Linked DNA regions of Homo sapiens. The protein of the gene in region 3 purifies or fractionates together with the protein of the main gene of each other region. This does not show direct contact. Each region holds a gene or a part of one and is shown on either strand. Other genes may lie near its edges.

Evidence for each region.
Region 1: the proteins of GFOD1 (region 3) and RALGAPB purify together in Homo sapiens (affinity purification with mass spectrometry; 4 studies listed by BioGRID and IntAct, with this or other methods). This does not show direct contact.
Region 2: the proteins of GFOD1 (region 3) and RALGAPA1 purify together in Homo sapiens (affinity purification with mass spectrometry; 4 studies listed by BioGRID and IntAct, with this or other methods). This does not show direct contact.

The regions. Positions count from the first base shown.
Region 1 is NC_000020.11:38,468,085-38,475,853, reverse strand, and holds the start of RALGAPB (ral GTPase-activating protein subunit beta), read right to left. Parts: upstream 3,012-7,769; 5' UTR 2,785-3,011; intron 1-2,784. UniProt on the Homo sapiens protein: Non-catalytic subunit of the heterodimeric RalGAP1 and RalGAP2 complexes which act as GTPase activators for the Ras-like small GTPases RALA and RALB.
Region 2 is NC_000014.9:35,806,285-35,813,869, forward strand, and holds the start of RALGAPA1 (ral GTPase-activating protein subunit alpha-1), read right to left. Parts: upstream 3,012-7,585; 5' UTR 2,552-3,011; coding exon 2,446-2,551; intron 1-2,445. UniProt on the Homo sapiens protein: Catalytic subunit of the heterodimeric RalGAP1 complex which acts as a GTPase activator for the Ras-like small GTPases RALA and RALB.
Region 3 is NC_000006.12:13,365,598-13,372,620, reverse strand, and holds part of GFOD1 (glucose-fructose oxidoreductase domain-containing protein 1 isoform 1 precursor), read left to right. Parts: intron 1-6,958; coding exon 6,959-7,023.

The DNA of each region.
Region 1 (7,769 bases), on a different chromosome or scaffold from region 3:
CTTAAGGTCAGCAGTTCGACATGAACCTGGCCAACATGGCGAAACCCCCTCTCAACTAAAAATACAAAAAAATTAGCCAGGTGTGGTGGTGGGTGCCTGTAGTCCCAGCTACTCAGGAGGCTGAGGCAGGAGAATCGTTTGAACCCAGGAGGCGGAGGTTGTAGTGAGCTGAGATTGCGCCACTACACTCCAGCCTGGGGGACAGAGCGAGACTGCATCTCAAAAAAAAAAAAAAGAAAAAAAAAATTTTATGAAATGTGTTTTTAATTCAGTCTACATACTTTGTCATGTTTAATTGCTATACAAAAAAAAATCTTTATTGTCCAAAAACCTCCTCATAATGACCTTCACACACATATTCACTAACTTTTGCAAATCCTTACATGGTTTTAAGACCAACCAAGAACAAATCCAATCTGAATTATTGGTCTGCCTTCCTTTAAACTTGTAAATATGGCAAATGGGGCAATGGCAGTTCAGGCATTCTGCAATAAATATGTGCTAAATTTGTCAATTCCTGTGACAACATGATTTTACTCTTCATTAAGTACTTAACGTCCTCTCTCCTGGTGAACAGGACCAAACATTACCAATGGCAATCCCATCTGCTTGTATTTACCAAATACCAACAAGGCAGTGGCATTTAGTGGATGACAACTAAACACTTTTTTGGACAATGAAGTAGGGAACACATGCAAAGGTCTAACAGTAATAAAAAGACTTTCCCTACAGACATGATTGCGTCCGATTGTGATAGAATCAGACATTAAAAATCAAACAATGTTGATTGCACATGGTTAGTTACAGAGTGCCTTGCAATTGGTAAGAACTCAATGTGTGTGTTCAACTGCTGGACAAATTGCTGAACATAACTAGAATACTCACTCCTAAGCAAAAAGAACAAAACTCTATAAGCTGGGAACTACCAAACATCTTTTACAAAAATGGAAATAGAGAAGAATCTGTTCGCAACATGATCTATCTATGACATAAAAGGACCCAAACATTCCACTGAGTAAAAGCTTTGTGAGTCTGTATGTCAAAGCACTGGAAGGAATACAGAGATGAAGAAAACATAGTCCCTGCCCTAAAGCTTCTCATAATCTAGAAGTAGGGATAGAACTACAACTCAGAAAAATAACTGATAAGTTTCACTACGATGTTCCTAAAGAGCAAATTGGAAGGACTCAAGGTGGGTAGGGGTCAGGGACAGAGGTATCTTGAAGGGAATGCTTAAAGCTAATGCAGCCAGAGACAGGAAGAAAAGGGTATGTAGGCCTGGCACAGTGGCTCGCATCTGTAATCCCACCACTATGGCAGACCATAGTGGGTGGACTGCTTCAGCCCAGGAGTTTGAGACCAGCCTGGGCAACATGGAGAAACCCCATCTCTACAAAAAAAATTCAAAAATTAGCCAAGCGTGGTAGTCCCAGCTACTTGAGAGGCTGAGGTGGGAGGACTGCTTGAGCTCAGGAGGCGGAAGTTGCAGTGAGCCAAGATCATGCCACTGCATTCCAGCCTGGGCAACAGAGCAAGACTCTGTCTAAAAAAAAGAAAGAAAGAAAAGAAAAGGGTGTGTATATGCATATAGGAGAGAGCAGAAGTGTGTGCGTTTGGGTGGGATGGCCAGAACGTTCAGAGGATGGTCTAGGCAGACTTCCAGCATATGTAAAAACGACCCAGAGGTTACAGACGCTACACCTATAAGTACTGTATATTTAGGAAAATTGCAAACGAGCAGTTTGCATAAGATGCATACATTTTAAATGTTCCAGATGACTCAGAATCCCTGCAGAGAATTCCATCCCTAACAGTCTTTCACAAGGTGTAGTGGTCAGTCAACCTAAAGATCTCTGCGGGTGGAACCTGCAAGTTTAACAAGCTCCCAGACAATTCTCCTGCACACTTAAGCTGGAGAAAGAGAGATGCTTTTTGAGATGCAGAATTATCAAATTACATGCGGTTCCCAAACTTTGCTGCAAGCTGGAATCACTTGGGCATCTTTAAAAAAAAAATATTGAAGTCTGGCTTTCAACTCCAGACATTCTGATTGTTTTGGTCTGGGATGCCACATGGGCATCAGAAACCTTTACAATTTCCCCCAGGTGATTCTACAGTGTAGCAAAGTTGGAGAGCCACTGCCCTAATTGTTAAGCACTTGGGTCGGATGCTCCGGTTCAAATTACTAGCTATGTGACCTTGGGTAATTAAGTCACCCAACCACCCAGGGACTCAGTTGCCTCGTCAGTAAAATGGGGACAACAATCCTACCTCACAGGGTTGCTGTGAAGTTAGACGTGGAGAACGTAATGGCCTGGCATGATGCCTGGCGGATAAGAAGCGCTTAATGGGGGTTAGCTGTTTACTCCCATCATCAACTCTCCCTCATCAAAGTGTCACTGTGCAATGGGCAGCATCGTCCCCACTGGGCGGCAGCAACTTGCCTAACCTTTCTGCTGGACCAAATTCTTTGCGGGAGTTGTCTAGCTCCGCTCCAGACCCGCCCCCTCCCCCAGGTTGCCAGGAGAGAGCTTCGCCTGGCCGGGGTAGCTCCCAAGGATTAGACCGGGTTTACACAGACTCGACAGCAGCCGCCCACTCCAGGGCCAAGCTTTCCCCGCCCCCGTGGGTCTCCCAAAAATTTGCAGATGAGCTTCCAAAGGCCGGGCCCCTGGAGCACCCAGAGCCGAGAAACAAGCCTCAGCCGTCCCTTGACCGCCAGGTGGGGAAGAGAGGGAAGGAGAGGGGAGGGTCCGGCCGCGGCGGGGCCGGCTGCCCGGTTACCTGAGGCGACGGGCGGGGCCCGCATCGCCGGGGCGGGCGCCGCCGCCGGCCGTCCTCGGCCTTCCGCCTCACGCGACCCGCGCCATAGGGCTGGCGCTTTCACCGCCCTGGCCGGCCGTCCTCAGGCGGTCCGTCAGTCCACCCGTCAGCGACTCTCCCAGGGCGCCAAGGGACGACGAAGGCCACTCGAGCCAGCCGGCTGGGATCTGCTCAGGCAACTTCCGACTGCCAGGGGCGGCGGCGTCAAATAACTCCCCAGCCAAGTGGGCCACTGCGCGTGCGCGGTGCGCCTAATCAGAGCTTTCTACGGGGCTGAACCGGTGGCGTCAAATAATTCCCGAGACACAGAGCCGGAAGCTGCGCCTGCGCAGCTATCCCAGATCGCCGCGCGGGACGCATTGCGTTCCTCCCATTCCGGATCAAGTGGAGAGGGAGGAGTGAAGTGACGGATGCACCTACCTCATCGCGGCACAGAGGAGGCGCTCTACCTGCGTCCTTAGGAATCTTACGGCATCCACTCTACCTGCTTTCGGTGCAGACGGATAAGGGGCTTCTCTGCAAGATTCTGGCTCCCACCTAGGTTCTAGGAATTTCTCCCATCCCACCATTACAGCACTCTTCCTCTGAAATGATGCCCTTTGCTCGCCGCCGTCTTATTACACGGGCACAGCATTAATTATGAACAGTGCTCTATTCCAGGCCCGGTGTGGGTTACAAAGGTGAATCGAACATAAGATTTAGAGCCTCTCATTAAAGAGCTGAATCTGATCGAGATAAGACAGTAGTAATAATACTAAGAGATACTACTTCGAGCACCTGCCATGCGCTAGACATTTTGTAAACAGTACCACTTTCAATAATTTGCTTTCACTTCAACGAAGAAAATAATACCATTGGAGAGGTACAGCTTAAGTGCTTTGAGAATCTAAAGGAGGAAACTTGGACTGAGAAAGAAGAGGAGGGAGGGATGGTGGAATTCTTCACGGAGGACCTGGCCTTGAGACTGACCTTGGGTATTGAGAGAGGGAGGAGGGGTCAGGGTGTTGAGTAGAGGTGAAGGCACGGTTGTCTGAAAAGCAGAAGGGAGCAAAGAAGATTCTGACTCCTCACCTCAGTTAGAAGAGACTATGGAGGAATGAGTGATAAGGGAACTAGTATCCTCACAGAAAGGGTAAAACTGAAGAGTGTTTCCTCAAGACCACACCTCACCCCCCAGAAAAATAGCTACAGGAAGGAAGAGGGAAAAGGAGGGTAAGAATGTGCTAGGACAGGAACGAGGCTATGTCCAGGACACTGGATCCAAGCAATACATTTCAATTAAACACAGTGTGACAAATTATGTAGTTGGCTAACTCAAGATCTATTTCAACCACTCCCTTGCCTTTCTATACTACAGGGGCTGAAAAGCAAAGCACACAACTCTCAACTTTCTTTGCTGCTAAGGGTGGCAGTGAGACAAAGTCCTGGCCACTGAGATGTAGGCAGAAGTATCAAAGGAGACCTTCCCTTCCTTCTTCCCTTGGAGAAGTTTGTGTCCTTCACTTTTCCCCTGCTTCATGCTTGGAACTGGGTAACACCTGGGAGCACAGCAGCCTAGAGGCCATGAGGAGGGCTGTGCTGAGGAAGGTGGAGCAGAAAGACAGGAGCCTGTTTGTTTAAGTCATACTCAAGCAGCTACACAAACCCTGTACTACCTTCCTGTCTTATCGGGATGAGGGATCTTATATATACCAGAGTTTGTTGAGTTTTATGTTACTTGCAACCAGATGCATTCTAACACAATTAATACTGAACCCCTGTAACAGACAAGGGAGGGGTGACTAACTGGAAGAACAACGGGTGATGGGAATTGGAAAAGTGACAGGCACAGAGGATGGGAAAGCTGTCCCAAAGCCCTTGGGGAGATGATGAAAATACAGCTATCACCCTTCTAGTGGTTTCAATTCATTCCTGAAATTCTGCTTCTAAGTGGAAAGCTGTTAAATTTTTCCCATTAATTAAAATGGGCAAAATTGTGTTCAATTCCAGCCTAAGGCACCTAAATATTTTTAACAGAAAAAATATATTGATGCAACAGAAAATTATACAAACAAATAATTTTGCTTAAAATATGGTTTTTACATAACATGTAAGGCAGTAAGACTTACTGCTCTGGACAGAAAGACAAGATTTAATATTAGGTGCAAGTTGGTGGAGGAGAGATGCAAGTGAGTGGTTCTCTAAATGATGGTTTGTTTTTTTAAGACACAGGGCCTCGCTATGTTGCCCAGGCTGGCTTCAAACTCCCAGGCCCAAGCGATCCACCTGCCTCAGCCTCCCAAGTAGCTGGAACTAAAGGCACACATCACTGTGCCTGGCATAAAAGATATGTTTTTTCTGCACTCTTTGCTAATTTTTTAAAACTTTTGAAGTCTTCACTTAAACAAACATAAAAATAAAACACACATACGCACATATACCTTGAGGGAAAATTAAAGACTAAACATTAGAACACTTTGAAACATTTGAGAAAAGCACACATGTACAATAAACTTAAGAGACACATGAGATGCTACACATAGTAAAACATTTTGGATCTCCAAACATAGTGCACAATTCAAATTTGTTCCACGGCATGATCTCTAACTAGAAACATCGACTAAACTGGGGAATGTCTTCATCTGAACTGTAATGTCAAAATATCATTGTGTATAGTGTGTTTGGAAAGGCACAGAATTGGAAAAAAGAGGAGCAGCGGTATAAGCTTTTGTGACAGACTTTTTTCCAAAGATCACTACACCAGTCTTTTTTGTTTTATTTACCCTGAAAGCATCATTCTGGGAGATGCCATACCAATCTATATGATCCATCCCATGGTTCTCCTTATGATGTAACCGACACTCCTCCCACTGAGAAGTGGGATTGATGTTCCTTCTCCTTGAGTCTGGCTGCGTCTGTGACCATTCTAACCAATAGGGCAAAAGTGATGCTATGTGATTTCTGGGGCTAGGTCATAAAGAAGACACAGCTTCTACCTGGCTTGCTCCCTATCACAATGCTCACTCTGGGACCCCAGCCACCATGTTGGGAGGAAGCCCAAGCCACATAAGGAAAACATGAAGAGGTGTTCCAGCTACCAGCCCTAGCTAAGTTTCTGGTGACAGTCAGCATCAATAGCCAGACATATGAGTGAGGAAGCCTTCAGATGATTCCAGCCCCCAGGCTTCAAGCCTCCACCCCAACCTGACACCAAGCTGAGCAGGGACAAACTAACCCTATTGAGAGCAGCCCATAAGAGATGTGGATCCATGAAAAATATTGAGCAGTCCATATAGCAGATTCATGAGTAAAATAAACATTGTCATTTACCCCAACCACTAAGTTTTGGGTTAAATTGTATACAGTCGCAGTAATTGGAACACTTTTCAAGAACCATAATTGAGAAAAGTTTGTAAATGAACAGCTGTATGTGAGATACGTCTGTGGCCATTTTTTTCTTGTTTTATTTTTCCTTCTTTTTTAATTGTGCAGTACCAGCTTGGGGTAGAAATAGTTGGTCAGACCCATTGCTGTTTTCCTGAACCTAAAACAATACTGGCATGGTGTTAAGTGCTCAATGAACATGTGTTGGATGGATGGATGGATGGATGGATGGATGGATGGATGGATGGATGAGGGGACGGATAGAAACTTCATTGGCTCAGTGCTGAACCCACCTTCTTGCTCCTACTGTTAATTCTTAGTGGATAGTATCCAGTGGTTGATGGTAGTAACACCATTAGATTCAGGCAAGTGAGGCCCCTTGTGCCAGACTCTGTGCCTTAAGAGGGTCCTGCACTTTGGACTGTATTCCTCAAAAGTTTGTAAGTGCCCTTCTGGGGCTAGCAATGCCATTTAGGAAGGGTGTCTCTGTCTAGACCAGATCCCATGTGACTCTTGTTGACCACAATTTTCTACCTTGAAATTTTCTAAGTCTCTCTCCAGTGGCTGGGACTAGCTAGGGTGAGTGGTGCCATCTAGGTAGGGCAACCGAGCTCCAGACCAAGTCCTTTCCCTGTGGGTCCCATTTGCTGTTTCTCCTCTTCAGGGTGCTCTCCAACCCTCTCTCTTACCCCTACCCATCTCTCACACATATGTAGGGTCAACCAGATGCCCTGAGAAGCTCCAGAATTCATGTTTATGGAGTCGTCATGGCCAGATCTGGTTCTGAGAGCAGCCTTGCAAGCAGCTCACTCCTGCTGCCTGGTGTAGAATTTCTTTCACTAGATTATATGAGATTAGGCTGTCAGAAATGCTGCTGACATGCTTTCACTCACTTGGACACAGCACGAGTTCAAGGATCTGGGCTCTGCAAATGCTTGTGCTTGAGCTGCCTGAGTGGATATATGCCTTGGCTTATACCTCTGTCTTCAGACCAGAGTACCACCTCTGGCTTATTGCAGCCAGGGTGATCTTGGGGAGGGGGATACGTGTGGCAGGCATCCTTTACCTGTGCACCCCTTCCCCAGCTGACTCCAGGGCAGTCACCTCACCACTTTGGCAGACTCCGGATCAGCTGTCAGTCTGTCCTCCAGGATTGGCCATGCCTATGTCCTCTGTCTTAGTCTGCTCAGGTTGCTATAACAAAATACTACAGCCTGGGTACCACAGTCTAAACAACAGATGTTTATTTCCCACAGCTCTGGAGGCTGGGAGGTCCAAGATCAAGGTGCTGGCCTATTTGGTTCCTGGTGAGGGCCCTCTTCCCCACTTGCCTTCTTGCTATGTCCTCACATGTTGGAGAGAGGAAGCTTTGGTGTCTCTTCTGCTTTTTATAAAGGCATTAAACCCGGCTGGGCACAGTGGCTCACGCCTGTAATCCCAGTACTTTGGGAGGCCCAGGCGGGCAGATCATTTGAGGTCAGGAGTCCGAGACCAGCCTGGCCAACAGGCAAAACCCTGTCTCTATTAAAAATACAAAAATTAGGCCGGGAGCGGTGGCTCACACTTGTAATCCCAGCACTTTG
Region 2 (7,585 bases), on a different chromosome or scaffold from region 3:
GCATTATGTTAGCCAATTTACATGTGCTAATTTATAATATCATTACCATTAGTTGTAAAATGGGGGGGAGGGGGTAGGTAGAAAGGATAACAGCTTTAGAAATCAGACAAGGCTTTTTTTTCTGTTTTAAGAAAACCCTGACTTCTAGTTTTTACAAATCAATTATGCAACAGTATCAATAAACATACCAGATTTAAATCTAAATCTTCAGAGTCAAGTTCTATAAATTTAACTTGGATTGTCCTACAGTGGGAACACATGCCAGGAAAAAAGTTTACAGCGGATGTTTAAATTATGATTATGTTCTCATACATATAGATGCACTGAATCCTCCCATAAGTACCCTGAGTGAATGGCAGTTCTGTTTGGTCCCATATGAACTATGAACTATGGGACCAAACAAAAATCAAAAGCCTGTGTAACTGGCAATGCCCAATTACTCTGCAAACTAGTTTCCTCATTGTGTTTACCTTATTTAAAGCCCGCACCTACTTCCAGAAAGGATTTTCCATCTGCAAAATCAAATACCTGATTGGCAGACCTCTAAAAGACACTAGTTTTTGTCATTCTACTTTCTCTCATTCATTTTCTTAGAAATTACATTAACTGTATTTCAAACAAAATAACGACAACAATAAAAGACTTGTTTTTGTTTTGTTTTGTTTTCAAACCAAGCAAGCTAAGTCCTACAAAATGCCTTATATGTGTGACCTCTCTCTTAATTTACCTTTTAATTTTCCATGTCTGCCAGATGGAAAAAAACTCTATGCCAAAAAAGTATATATAAATAATTCCTTAACCAGTCTATAAATAAAGTATGGCCTTTAATTTAGGAAATCTCGATACTTTATTGGAACTCAACTTTATAGCTGTGTCATTACCTAACCTACAGCTTATCCCAAGTAGGTGTCAAGCTCCATTAAGTGTTCAATTTCAAACTGCCATTACCTGTGAATCCCTCGCCTGCATTCACACATTAACTTACTGTGTCCTATTCTCGGCTAAATCTTTATTTCAATGGCTTAACTCTCAAGAAGAATGAAAACAAAAAGATCACAATCTCCACTATATTTAGAAGCTTTACATTTTCTTGAAAACTGAGCTTTTTATAGCGCTAAACTGGATTAACTGCTTTCTTACTACTCCACTGGAATAAATACAATTTACTTGTGACAAAGATTAGCTGTCATAAATGTAGAAAGAGTAAAAAAACAAACTAGAGACACAAAATCTGGGTTCCAATTCTGACTCAGCCTCCTGGTAGCTGGCTGACTACTCGATGTTCCCAAACTTCAGCTTTTTTGTTGGTAAAAAATGGAGAATAATATCATCTACCTATAGAGTTATTGCAAGGATTATCATAATTTACGTGAAATCACTGTAAACAGTAAAGCATCATAGAAATGTTGGGTAATATTGGTGGTATCCTGGTGGTATGAGTAAACAATAGACTAGAGAAACATGTACCTCAAATAAGGGACTTACTTTTTTCACTAAATAAACATCACTTTCCAAAACAAATACGCATCAGGAGGACAGCTCGAGATAAACTCTGAACTAGGATTCAGGCATCTGGATGAATGCATCTTCTTCAGCCAGTTCCACCATTAACTCTAAGTATCAACACAGGCGAAATAATTTTCCTTTTCATCTCAAATGTCTTCATCTAAAAAATCCAACTACTGGACCAGATGTTCCATAAGTATTATTACAGCCTTTATCAGCCTACCAAATGACTAAGTATTCAAAAGAGTCGATTAACATTATATTCAAAACTTAGAGCACTGTTTGGTCTACCAGCAAAACAGAACTTAAGGGCAGACGATAAAAAAAATATTTTTAATTAAAAATAGAATTATATACAATTCTCGAGAAGCAAAGGATGAGTTAAACTACCTATAATAGTTCTCCCTCTAAATGACTAGTGATGAACAAGGTGCATTAACAAAAGGGCGGGGCTCCTTCCCACAGCTTTTTGGGAACCGCCCACTTCCCAAAGAGGTGTAACTGCTACCTCCTTGTCTTCATCTGCCAAGAAACTTGAAAGATTAAGGTTTATATTGTCTGAGAGAGGATTTTATTTTTCTTTTTACTTGGGTGGGGTTGGCAGTAGTCATCTGGCAAACATATCCTATAAACACCATTATCCACAACGCCAGGTCTCCCCACAAAGTCTTAAAGATCTAAGTTTTTAGAGTAATACCAATTTTAAAAAATAAGTTCAGACTATTAACTCAAAATTAGATTACTGTGTTAACAGTAATCAGTGCTGCCAACTGCCAAGTTTTCGCTTCTCCGAATTATTCACCCTCCCGCGTCTCCGCAGAGGCTACGATTTGCCCTCTCCTGCACCGCGCCAGGTCCCGAGAGAGAGTCCGCAGGGGCTCCCAGGAGAGGGAAGGCCGGGCAACCCAGGCCTCGGCGCTGCCACCCCTCGCTCCTCACCGATGACGATGCGCAGGTGCTTGAGGCGAGTCAGTGCGTCCTTCTTGGTGTCTAGCACCTTCTGGGTGGACTTCTTCACGTCCCCGTGCGGCTTCTTGGAGAACATCCTGTCGCTGCCACTGCCACTGCCACTGCCACAGCCGGCTCCCAGCCGGGTCCCGGCGGCAGAAAGTGGAGGGAGTGGACGGGGAGGAGACTAGCCAGAGAGGCTCATTAGCTCCCCAGCCTTGCGGGCCAGGGCAGAGCCGACTCCTTCCCGATCCAGGCCAGGGCCGCCACCTCCACCCGCCTCGCGCCGCGGCTCCAAGGCACCTTCGGCCCCAGCTCCAATATGGCGGATCCCTCTCCCGGCCCTGCACGGAGCGAGGCAGACCCGGGCTGGCCGCCTGCCGCCGCCGCTCGTCTCCAGCGGCCGCCGCTCGCCGCCACAGGCCGGGGCCCCGGACCCAGAGCCACGAAGGTGGAGCTCTCGGCGGCAGGAGCACAACTCTCTCCCTGAGGCCCCCTTAAGGTTGAAGCTTCTTTAGCAGCTTACACCCTGCAGAGGCCGAAACGGAGACGAGTGTGGTAGTGATGGGGTTTCACGACTCTGCCGTCGGTGGCGAACGGTGTCCGTGGCAACCGCCTTCTGACGTCAAGAGTTCTTGACGTCATGCCAGCATGAGATCACCCGTGGCACTCCCCGCCTTGGTTTCCTGTGTAAGCAGCCAAAGGAGAATCTCAAGAAAGGCAAGGAAGGTAGTTACTGCGTGCTCCATTGTAAGCCAAATGATAGTAATAAGCAAAGAGAAGTAATCTTTATTAAATATGTCCATGATTTATCTTTGAAAATGTGCATAAGTTGTTGTGGCCACCAGATCCTCTAGCAGAAAGATAAACGAAGTTACAGTTGGGCAATTTATTCTGTCCTAAATCTATTACTAATAATATTTCCTGCACTATGTATGTGATTTCTTTCATATTTTTTCTATTTGCAATATCCCTGTTTTTTGCTGCAAACAACTTGACAACAGAAAGGCTTAAGCAGAGGTATCTAGGTTTTTTAAATAAAAGTAATCTTGCTTTCCTTTTCTATTGTGCTTTTAAAAATCTTTTCCCCATCTGCACCCCACATAAAGATGAATATATTGTCAGTTTTTCCTCTGCAAAGAAGAATTCAAGGTTCTTATTACATTGATGGAGTCATCTGAAGAATCTGCAATAGCTGAAAAAAATCCGTGAAATTCTGAATGACATAAATTGAAATTTTTATTGGAACCCTTTTTTTTTTTTTCCTTTTTCCTTTTCTTTCCAGACAGGGTCTCTGTGTCCCAGGCAGAAGTGCAGTGGTGTGATCTCAGCTCACTGAAGCCTCGAACTCCCAGGCTCAGGTGATGCTCCCACCTCAGCCTACCGAGTAGCTGGGACCACAGGTGCGCGCCACCACATCCAGCTAATTTTTGTGTTTTTTGTAGAGACGGGGTTTCGCCATTTTGCCCAAACTGGTCTAAAACTCCTAGACTCAAGTGATCCGCCCGCCTCAGCCTACCAAACTGCTGGGATTACAGGCGTGAGGCCACTGCGCCTGGCCAGGAACATTTCCTCCACAAAATAATTTGATAAAGAGTGAGTTTGCTTGTTTGAACTGTTTCCTTCTATGTTCTCACCCATAGCAATAGACTTGTCCAATGAAATATGTGATTAACATAGAAAAATAACAAAATCAGCAAAGAAGAGAGATGTAAGACATTTGCCAAAATTATGTTAAAATATAGTGCTTTGCTTAATGGTAGTTTGTTTCAACAACAATCCTATATTTTTTAAAGTACAAAAAATTTATTCAGTTTCTACATGTAGGGTTTGTTTGTATCATCAAACTTACAAGCCATACATGTTTTGAGGAAGCTTATAACATAATAGAAAAATAAGGGGATTGTTCAAGAGATTTTAGTTCTAGTTCCTCTCAGCATCAGTTTTCTTATTAATAAAATCAAAATAAGGTCTGTCCCTCACAGTTTCGTGAAATTTAGGCAATAATACAATGTTTTCAAGCATGATCTTTAGAATTACATAGACCTAAATTAGACATTCTGTTTTTCACTTGCAAGGACTTACTTGCTCTCGGGCCCTTGGCATGTAGTTCAGTCTCAGCCTGATTTTCCTCATTTGTAAACTACATCAGTGATTGTGATAATTAGGTGAGAAAAGTATTGAAAGTTACATCTATAATGACACATCTCATAACATTCCTTTCCTTCATAGAATTTAAATACAGTAATTTGTGTAACTGTTTACAGATTCTCTCTTTCATGAGACTGTAAACTCCCTGAGGACAGAGACTGTATAGATTGTCTAAAGTTGTATCCCAGTCTTCTTGCAAAGTGCTCTTTGCAAGATAGGCTCAATAAATCTGTGTCGAATAGAAGAACGAATGTCACTGTCCCTTCCTTTCTCTTGCGCAAGTACTCAGTAAATGTTTGGCAAATGAGTGACATAATTTTAGAGAATAAAAATGTAACATATCGTTAAAAATAATTATATGGCTGGTATACCTGAGAAAAAATGAAAACACCATTGCAAAACAAACTAGTATAATGTAATTTACATATGGCACACCCATCCCACTGCCTGGTTTTTCTCTTCCCATTGATTTAAATATTAAAATTCTTTGAAAGATAAGTCTTCCCCACAGCAGACATAATTATCATGGAAATAAAACCCAGAAATATACCTTTGAAATATTGCTTGTGAGGGCCAGGCACGGTGGCTCATGCCTGTAATCCCAGCACTTTGGGAGGCCGAGGCAGGCGGATCACAAGGTTAGGAGAGTTCAAGACCAGCCTGACCAACATGGTGAAACCCCGTCTCTACTAAAAATACAAAAAAATTAGCCAGGCGTGGTGGGGCACGCCTGTAATCCCAGCCACTCAGGAGACTGAGGCAGGAGAATTGCTTAAACCCAGGAGGCGGAGGTTGCAGTAAGCCAAGATTGCACCACTGAACTCCAGCCTGGTTGACAGAGTGAGACTCTGTCTCAAAAAAAAAAAAAAAAAAAAAAAAAAAAAAAAATATATATATATATATATATATATATATATTGCTTGTGAGAACTAGATTTTTTTTCTTTTAGTGACTGGGTCTTGCTCTGTCATCCAGGCTGGAATGCAGTGGTGCAGTCACAGCTCACTTTAGCCTTAACTTCCTGGACTCAAGCAATCCTCTCACCTCAGCCTCCCATGCAGTTGGTAACACAGGCAGGTGCCAAAAAGCCCAGCTAATTAAAAAAAAATTTAGTAGATGGCCAGGCGTGGTGGCTCACTCCTGTAATCCCAGCACTTTGGGAGGCCGAGGCAGGTGGATTACCTGAGGCCAGGATTTCAAGACCAGCCTGACCAATATGGAGAAACCCCTTCTCTATTAAAAATACAAAATTAGCCAGGAGTGGTGGCGCGTGCCCATAACCCCAGCTACTCGGGAGTCTGAGGCAGGAGAATCACTTGAACCTGGGAGGCGGAGGTTGCGGTGAACTGAGATCGTGCCATTGCACTCCAGCCTGGGCAACAAGAGCGAAACTCCATCTCACAAAAAAAAAAAAAAAAAAAAAAAAAAAAAATTTAGTAGAGACAAGGTCTCACTATTTTGCCCAGGCTGGTCTTTAACTCCTGGCCTCAAGGGATCCCCCTACCTCAGCCTCCCAAAGTGTTGGGGTTACAGATTACAGGCATGAACCACCACACCTGGCCTACACACAAATGTTTATAGCAATTTTATTCCTAACTCCAAAAACTAGAAGCAACCAAGATATCTTTCAGTAGTTAAATGAATAAACATACTGTGGTACATCCATACAATGGAATATTATTCAGCAATAAAAAGAAATGAGTTCTTGAGCCACAAAAAGACATGTATGACACTTAAATGCATATTGCTAAGTGAAAGAAGCCAGTCTGAAAATGCTACATACTGTATGATTCTAGTTATATGACATTCTGGAAAAGGCAATATTATAGCAATAGTAAAAAGATCAGTGGTTGCAAGAGGATTGAGGGGAGGGAGAAGAAGATTGAATAGGTGAAGGATGGGATATTTTTTAGGGTGGTGAAACTATTCTTTTTTTTTTTTTTTTTTTTTTTTTTTTTTTTTTTTTGAGACAGAGTCTCACTCTGTCACCCAGGCTGGAGTACAGTGGTGCAAACTTGGCTCACTGCAACCTCCGCCTCCTGGGGGCTCAACACCACACTCAGCTAATTTGTTTGACTTTTAGTAAAGATGGGATTTCACCATGTTGCCCAGGCTGGTCTTGAACTTCTGGGCTCAAGCGATCCGCCTGCCTTGGCCTTCTAAAGTGCTGGGATTACAGGTGTAAGCCACTGTGCCCCACCCCCACCCATATACTTCAAATCATCTCTAGATTCTTTAAAATACCTAATGCAATGTAAATGCTATGTAAATAGTTGGTATTCTGTATTGTTTAGGGAATAATGACAAGAAAAAAAAAGTCTGTGTGTGTTCAGTACAGATGTAACCATCCATTTTTTTCTGATTCCTAGTTGGTGGAATCCACAGATGCAGCACTCATGGATACAGAGGGCCAACTGCACACATATGTTTACTAGCACATCTATATACACATACCTATAAATATTTCTGTACATAACCATCTGTATCTGTATTAAGCTAAACATGAATTAATACCTATGTGGTGCCTCAACTCTAATCCATTACTAGATGAATCATTCTACCCTTCTCCCTTTACTTATTATAAACTCCCACTCCAACAATAAGATACTTGGTTCCCACCATATACCAAACATTTACTTATTTTATTGCAGTATACATGTATAACAGTATCAGAATTGTTAACCTACTTTCCCATGAGAAACAACTTTATTAACTAGAGTACCGTGCATATGTACATTTTCTTTTGTCTTTAGTCTTACAGATTCCACTCATTCCCAAATAAGTACCTTTTTCTACACCTTCTTTAGTGAGGTTGTTTCATACTTATAATACAGTTTGATTATTTTGTCACATTTTGTGTTCCAGTGGGATCCTCTGATTTCTTTTAATGTGCATACGTTAAGGTTCATTCTACATGCTATAAAATAGTTCTATGAGTATTGGCAAATGCATAGGGTCATGTATCCACAATTACAGTATC
Region 3 (7,023 bases):
CCATCTTTCCCTAGAGGTGTGAATGGGAAGCCCCTTGCCCAGACTCCCAGGGGTACCATTTGGATCAAGTGTCAGCCCCACCAAAGCTCTGATCTGTCCTGAGATAGGAGCAGAGACTCAGCCACAACTTGGAGACCCTGAGCTTGGAGGATATAAGGGGAGCAGCTGCCTGAAGGGCTTTAGGGTCTCTGGGCTGGAAACTCTTCCCTATAGCACAGATTTCTCAGGAGGGCCATGAATATTTTGGCTCGGTTACAGAGAACACATTCAGCAGGCTTCGGAGGGAGCTGATTTTCCATTTCCCCATGAGGGATCTCAGGAGGGCAGTAAAGCTTCTTCTGAAATTATTTAACTTAAAAGCTTCTGATGAAGATCAGGCACACTGCCTTGCACATAGCACTCTAACCCGTCAGAAGTTTCCCACGGATCTCATTTTGCTCCTAATTACAGCACGGCAACATAGGTTGGAAGGTATCTCTCAGCTCCACCATTTTAAAGACAGATAGCTTCGCTTTATTTGCTGCTGAGAGGATATTGTCTTAAAATTTTAAGTTGGTTCAAGCCCCAAAGCCTTCAAAAGACCCAGCTTTAGCTCTTTGTTCTCACACAAAGGGCTGCCTGGTCTTTGTGGAGTGAGTTGTGAAGGCCTCCCCAGAAGACTCAGGCCAGTCCTCGTGTGCTTTCTGCCACTCACCCGTGGTCACACTGCATCACATTGACAGATGCGGCAACCCTCCAAGACAGCCATTTCTGGATGCAGGGACAGAGCCCTCAGGGGGGCGAGCTGAGCATGGAGCCGTGGCGTGATGGTTCACAGTCCTGGATGGATGCAGCAGAGTGACCCTCACCCATCATACCCGCATGTGCACAGAAAGCCCCTCCCGTTCCTCTACCACCATTGAGAGCACCAGGGGACTTTGCCAGACCTCTCCCACCACTTGGGAAATGTTTGGGGCTTGGCAAAACACAAAACATACTTTCTCAGGCACTTCTTGTTTTCATGGTTTTCATTTTTCACTGCCTGTTAATCTGGAGTGAAATAGAGTCCATATGTTCCAAGTCCCTTTGCCTAATTCTCTGCAGCATGATTTTTATCTCTGAAATTGTTTGAAGTCCCAAAGTTTTTGATCTTTTTGCCTCAGAAAGTGGGCACCACATTTTGCCACAAGAGGATGTAAACCTGAGACCTAAAGAACGTGTGTTGGCCTGGTGCTCCCAGAGGTGTGTGGACTCAGCATGGGACAAGTGGCTCCCTTGTCTTTTCAGGGAAGTTGTTCACCTAGGAGTAAGAAAGTGCAGATGGCCTCCTTAGGCTGTGCACAGTGACCTAGGGCAGTATTCTTTTCTCATGGCAAAAGGGGGAAAGCCTTTGTAGGTTTCTCCATTAGGAAATTAGCCATGGCTGTAAAGGGCTTATAAGAAAACAGGGCCTCTGCCTCTGCCTGAACCCCTCATTTTCTGTCTTCCCGGTAGAATCTACTTACCCTCAAGTCAAAGAAATGTCATAGCCACGTGCTTAGAGAAGAGTGCAAGACTGCCTCTACTTATTTCCTACATTAAATGGGAGAGAGTGCTTTTCTCTAAAGAGCCATTTTGGTGCTTTCTCCTATGCTAAGACAGATGATTGTCATGAGAAGATCAAATACCTGTGGTATTTGCTGGAGAGCCGAGTCCAAAGCCCAGGCTGACAGACAGGCAGTTTGCAGAACAGGTACCTGTGTGCTTTCTTCGGGAGAAATCCCAGCATACAGTGAATGGCATCTGACACACCCAGGATTGTGGGGTATGTCAACCACACACTCAGACAATGCAAGTTCCCTTTACGTTGCACGTGGTTTTAGGGATGAGAGGAATGCTCTGTGCCACACTAATCCACCTACACACATACATACATACACACACACACACATAAACACATATACACACACACACAGTGTCTGACTAGAAGTCTATACTTAGAATTGTGCTCCTTTAGCAAGAACCTTTTGATAGCGAAGATTTGGGTGGGGAAAAGCTGGAAAAAGAAAAAACCTGAGGATCTTGAGGATCTCAGAGTGGGCTTTTCAGAAGCCCACCGAGAGAGGTAGGGTAAGGGAAGACTGTCCAGAATGCAGAGAAAACAAACTTTGCTTAGCAATTCGTGAAGGGTCTGCTGGCTCTGCGTTTTGGGTTCCTTTTGGAACTGGAAGGATTATCTTATTTTTAACAATATGTCCCAAAGCCTTTAAGAATTTATTGTGAATGTATGATGATGCCTGGGCCTCAGAACCGGAGGGGATCCGTGCATGGGCTTCAGGTTGTGGCAGAGTTTTGTGCATCTGTCTGAGTTGCATGTTTTGGAGAGAGAGTCCACAGCTTTCAGTAAGAATCATAAAGAGGTCTTGAGCAAATGGAGCAAGAAGACCTGGCAACAGAGCCCGGGCTTCTGAAGCTTTCAAGATTCAGGGTCAGCAGAACCTTCTACCAGCTCTCTGGGGCTCAGGAACTGGGATGGGCCCATGAGAGCTGGGACCTGCCAGCTCCCCTAGACTTTGGAGGACCCTTTTTCCATTATTGTGAGTGCTGTCCTTCAAAGGTCTTCCTGTCTCTTTGTGGATTTTTTTAATTAGCTTTTTTTTTCTGACCATAAAATTACAAATTTAGAAAATATGGAAAAATGTGAAGAAAATAAAATCAATCATAATCCTACTAATCCAACCACTCCTACTAATCAGAGTAAACCTCCTAGGGTTTTTCTTTTTCTTTTGTCATTTCAGAGAGGGTTGAGATCATATATGTCTATGAATAGAGCCCTTTTCATTTAACATTACATCATAATCATCTTACTTGCCATTGAAAAGTCTCCATAAGCATCATTTTCTATGGTTGCACAATATTCTATTATATGGCTGCATGACAGTTGACTTAACCCTTTTTCTGTTGGGTATTTGCGTTGCTCATAGTTGTTTTGTTTTTTGTTTTGAGACAGGGTCTCACTGTCACCTAGGCTGGAGTGCAGTGACACAGTCATAGCTCACTGCAGCTTTAAACTCCTGGGCTTAAGTGATGCTCCCACCTCAGCCTCCTAAGTAGCTGGGACTACAGGCATGCATCACCACGCCTGGCTTTTTTTAAGAAATGGGATCTTGCTATGTTGTCCAGACTGGTCTCAAACTCCTGGCCTCAAGTGATCTCCCCAAAACTCCAGAATTATGGGCGTGAAGCCACTGCATCCAACCTCTGTTCCCAGTTTTTTGCTATAATAAATAATGCAGTCAAAACTATCTTTGGGCAAGAAGCCATGCTTGCATATTGGATTAGTTCTTTATGAGAAATTCCTAGAAGTCTCGTTTGACTTTTGAAGATATCGTGTGTTAAGATGTTGCCGAGACCCATCTGTAAAGCATGAATGTTGCAAAAGACTGTGGGCACAAAGGTGGGGCAGGCAACAAGGTTTGCTGGGTTCCTGCTGCACACTGGATGCACCACAGGGTGCTGTGGGTATTAATGGAGACTTAAGCATTAAACAACCCAGCCCTTATCCTTGAGGGCCTTACTGTATAATGTGGAGCCATATCATATATATTAGGTTGGTGCAAAAGTAATTGCAGTTTTACCATTAAAAAGAGGGCACCACAATTACTTTCAGTGGTAAAACCACAATTACATTTGCAGCAACCTAATAAATAGCCTGAAGGGATGTGTGTGTCTCAGATCCCTGGGGAATCCACATGTGAGTCTCAGGGTGGAGTTGCATTTTTGTATATCATGTCATGTTCATTTTACATCTTCTGGAGCTTTCATCAAAATCTCTTTATCTATGGAGCTGCAAAGAATTCCATGCAATCATTGTTTTGGGTGTGTAGGGAAGGGGTGTGGATCATTTTTCTCTAATTATTCTTCTTTTATTATTTTATTTTATAGTTTTTATAATAGAAAAAAATAAAAACCTTTTCTTAAGTGCCATTAATATGACCAATAGCGTATACTAAGCAGATGGCAGTCAGGATCCTGCTTTTGGGGACCTTGAAATAGGGTGTAGTAGAGGCCAGAGCCTACACCCAATGGGTGTGAGGCAGATTTTGGCAGTATTTATCACCTGTCCCTGCAGTGACCTACCGCTGCATTTACATATAAATCTGTTCCTGGTAGCATGAGCTGGTGTTAGATGAGCCTTATGCCTACGGGATCATATTGTCAGAACATAATGTTACACAGGTGTGTGGCACTTTTGGCGATACAAACCAATGTTATCTTATCTCTCTGCCGGAGCCTCAGTCCTCATCTGGTTGCTAAGCACTAAAAGAGCTTCTCACTGCTATTTCATGGCCATCAGGGGCACCAGCCCAGCTCTGCCAACATAGAAGAAAAGGCAAGGAGGTGTGGTCATTCTGTAGGCTCCAGGCTTTTCACTCAGGGCCAGAACTAGATGTGCACGTGGAAACTGACAGCCATGGTTTGTATTTCCTTTCTCCAATCTGTACCGACCAGTTCTAGGATTTGGCTAGCTCTTCCACTGGGAAAATGAGAAAGCCATGTGCCAGGCTGTGGCCCTGGACAGACATCTGCAATCTCACGACTTCTACAAAACCCCATCTTAGCTCAGCACGTTGTAAGTGTTCGTGGATTTTGTCAATTGAGTGTCTGTAGTCAGGACAAGTGGGATAGGGTGGCGTGTGTCTCATCACCCCATTTCTCTTGGGGTCTCTCCCACATCTGCGGCTGGAGTGCCCAGGTCTCCATTAGAGGGTCTATGGGTGAGCATGCCTAGACCACAGAGACCTGCCCCAGGACAGGTGCTTTGACTCCCAAGTCTTTTTGCCTAGCGTCTGTTTTATCTGACTTGCTAACAAATCTGTGTCATTCTTTTTTTTTTTTTTCTTGCCCTCCAGTTGGCTGTTTCTCCAGGTCCAGCTGAGTTGTTTTTCTTCTTCCCTGACTCTTGGCTTCCATGAAATAAATCCCTTTCTCATTCCCTGCCACTCTCCTTTCCTTTGATCCTTTGTTTTCCCCAGACCCAGAACCACTTAGTCTCCTAAAGGGCTCAGAGAGGCATTTTGGTCTCTGTGTAATTTATACACACATCACAGTCATCACATAAGACTAAATCTTATTTGGCCTGACCTCCACTGGCCAAAAGCAACATACCCCACCCTGAAGCAGATGGGGGTCGGGAAGGAAGCAGGCACTGCCAACTCCTCAGATTTAGGTGATATCCGCTCTTTGTAGGAAAAGAAAAACGTTAAACGAACACATCTGTGACCACTGCCAGCCCTAATCCAGAATGCAAAATAAACAAGCATGATAATGCTCAAAATACAATCCTGGGGAATTGTGAGGGGTGGAGAGGGGAAGACATTAGCCAAAAGCTTAGACCTTCAAAGGGTATCAATAAGAAGTTCTTCAGACTTAATTAGACTTACCTTGGCTAGGATTTAAGTTTATGTATTCTTATTCTGTCCAAATACAGGCACTCTTCTCCTTTCACTATATGATTTTTAATAATAATACACTTTTACTAAAAATGATATTTTAAATATAAAATACAACATATCAAACATTTTATATATATGATAACTGTAACAATATATTTTATATGTAAAAAGATTATATTGTATACTTTAATAGTACTATCTAATATTTTGTATTTAAATAACATAAAAGCAAAATCTATTTCTGTTTAAAATGTTATAGGTTTATATAAATAAAATATAAAATGAAGCATTTTATACTACCTTAGCAAATATTGTTAAACATTTCTAAAATATAGGTTACTTAAATATCTTAAAATAAACCTTACTATTTAAATCAATACCAGACATTTAACATTAAAATTAAGTAAGTCATGGCCTTTTGGGACCAGGACACCTGTAATCCCAGCACTTTGGGGACTTAGAGGGTAGGGGACCACTTAAGACCAGGAATTCGAGACCGGCCTGAACAATATAAGGAGACCCCTGTCTCTTAAAAAAAAATTGGAGACCCCATCTCTTTTAAAAAAAAAAAATGGCTGGGCGCAGTGGCTCACGCCTGTAATCCCAGAACTTTGGGAGGCTGAGGTGGGCGGATCATGAGGTCAGGAGTTCCAGACTAGCCTGGCAAACATGGTGAAACCCCATCTCTACTAAAAATACAAAAATTAGCTGGGCATGGTGGCGGGCGCCTGTAATCTCAACTACTCGGGAGGCTGAGGCAGGAGAATCGTTTGAACCCAGGAGGTGGAGGTTGCAGTGAGCCGAGATGGTGCCATTGCACTCCAGCCTGGGTGATAGGGTGAGAATCCATCTCAAAAAAAAGTTTAGCTAGGTGTGGTGGCACCTACTGTCTTAGCTACTCAGGAGGCTGAGGCAGGAGGATTGCTTGAGCCCAGAGATTTGAGGCTGCAGTTAGCTATGATCGCACCACTGCAATGCAGCCTGGGGAACAGTGAGATTCTGTCTCAAAAACAAACAAACAAAAAACAACAAATTAAGTAATGCAACATAAATATTTAAAGTAATATTGAAATATATAGAATATCTTTTTTATTTTCATTATTTTTTATTTTTTGAGACAGAGTCTTGCTGTCCCCAGGCTGGAGTGCAGTGGCCAGAACATAGCTCACTGCAGCGGCCAGAACATAGCTCACTGCAGCCTCAACCTCCTGGGCTCAAGTGATCCTCCCACTTCGGCCTCCTGAGTAGCTGGGACCACAGGCGTGCACCACCACGCCCGGCTCATTATTATTATTATTATTATTATTATTATTATTATTATTATTATTGAGACAGGATCTCTCTGTGTTACCCAGGCTGGCCTCCAACTCCTGGGCTCAAGGCCTCCTCCGGCCTTGGCCTCCCAAAGTGCTGGGACAACAGGCATGAGCCACCACATCTGACCTTCTTTTTCTATTAATGTGAAATATTTTAAGATCTGACCCAGGGACGCGCGCTCGGACATGGTCCTGCCCCGCTGACCGCTGTCTTCCTCCCACCCGCAGGCATCGGCAAGAACGTCATCTGCGACCGCACGGCCACGCCGCTGGACGCTTTCCGCATGACCTCG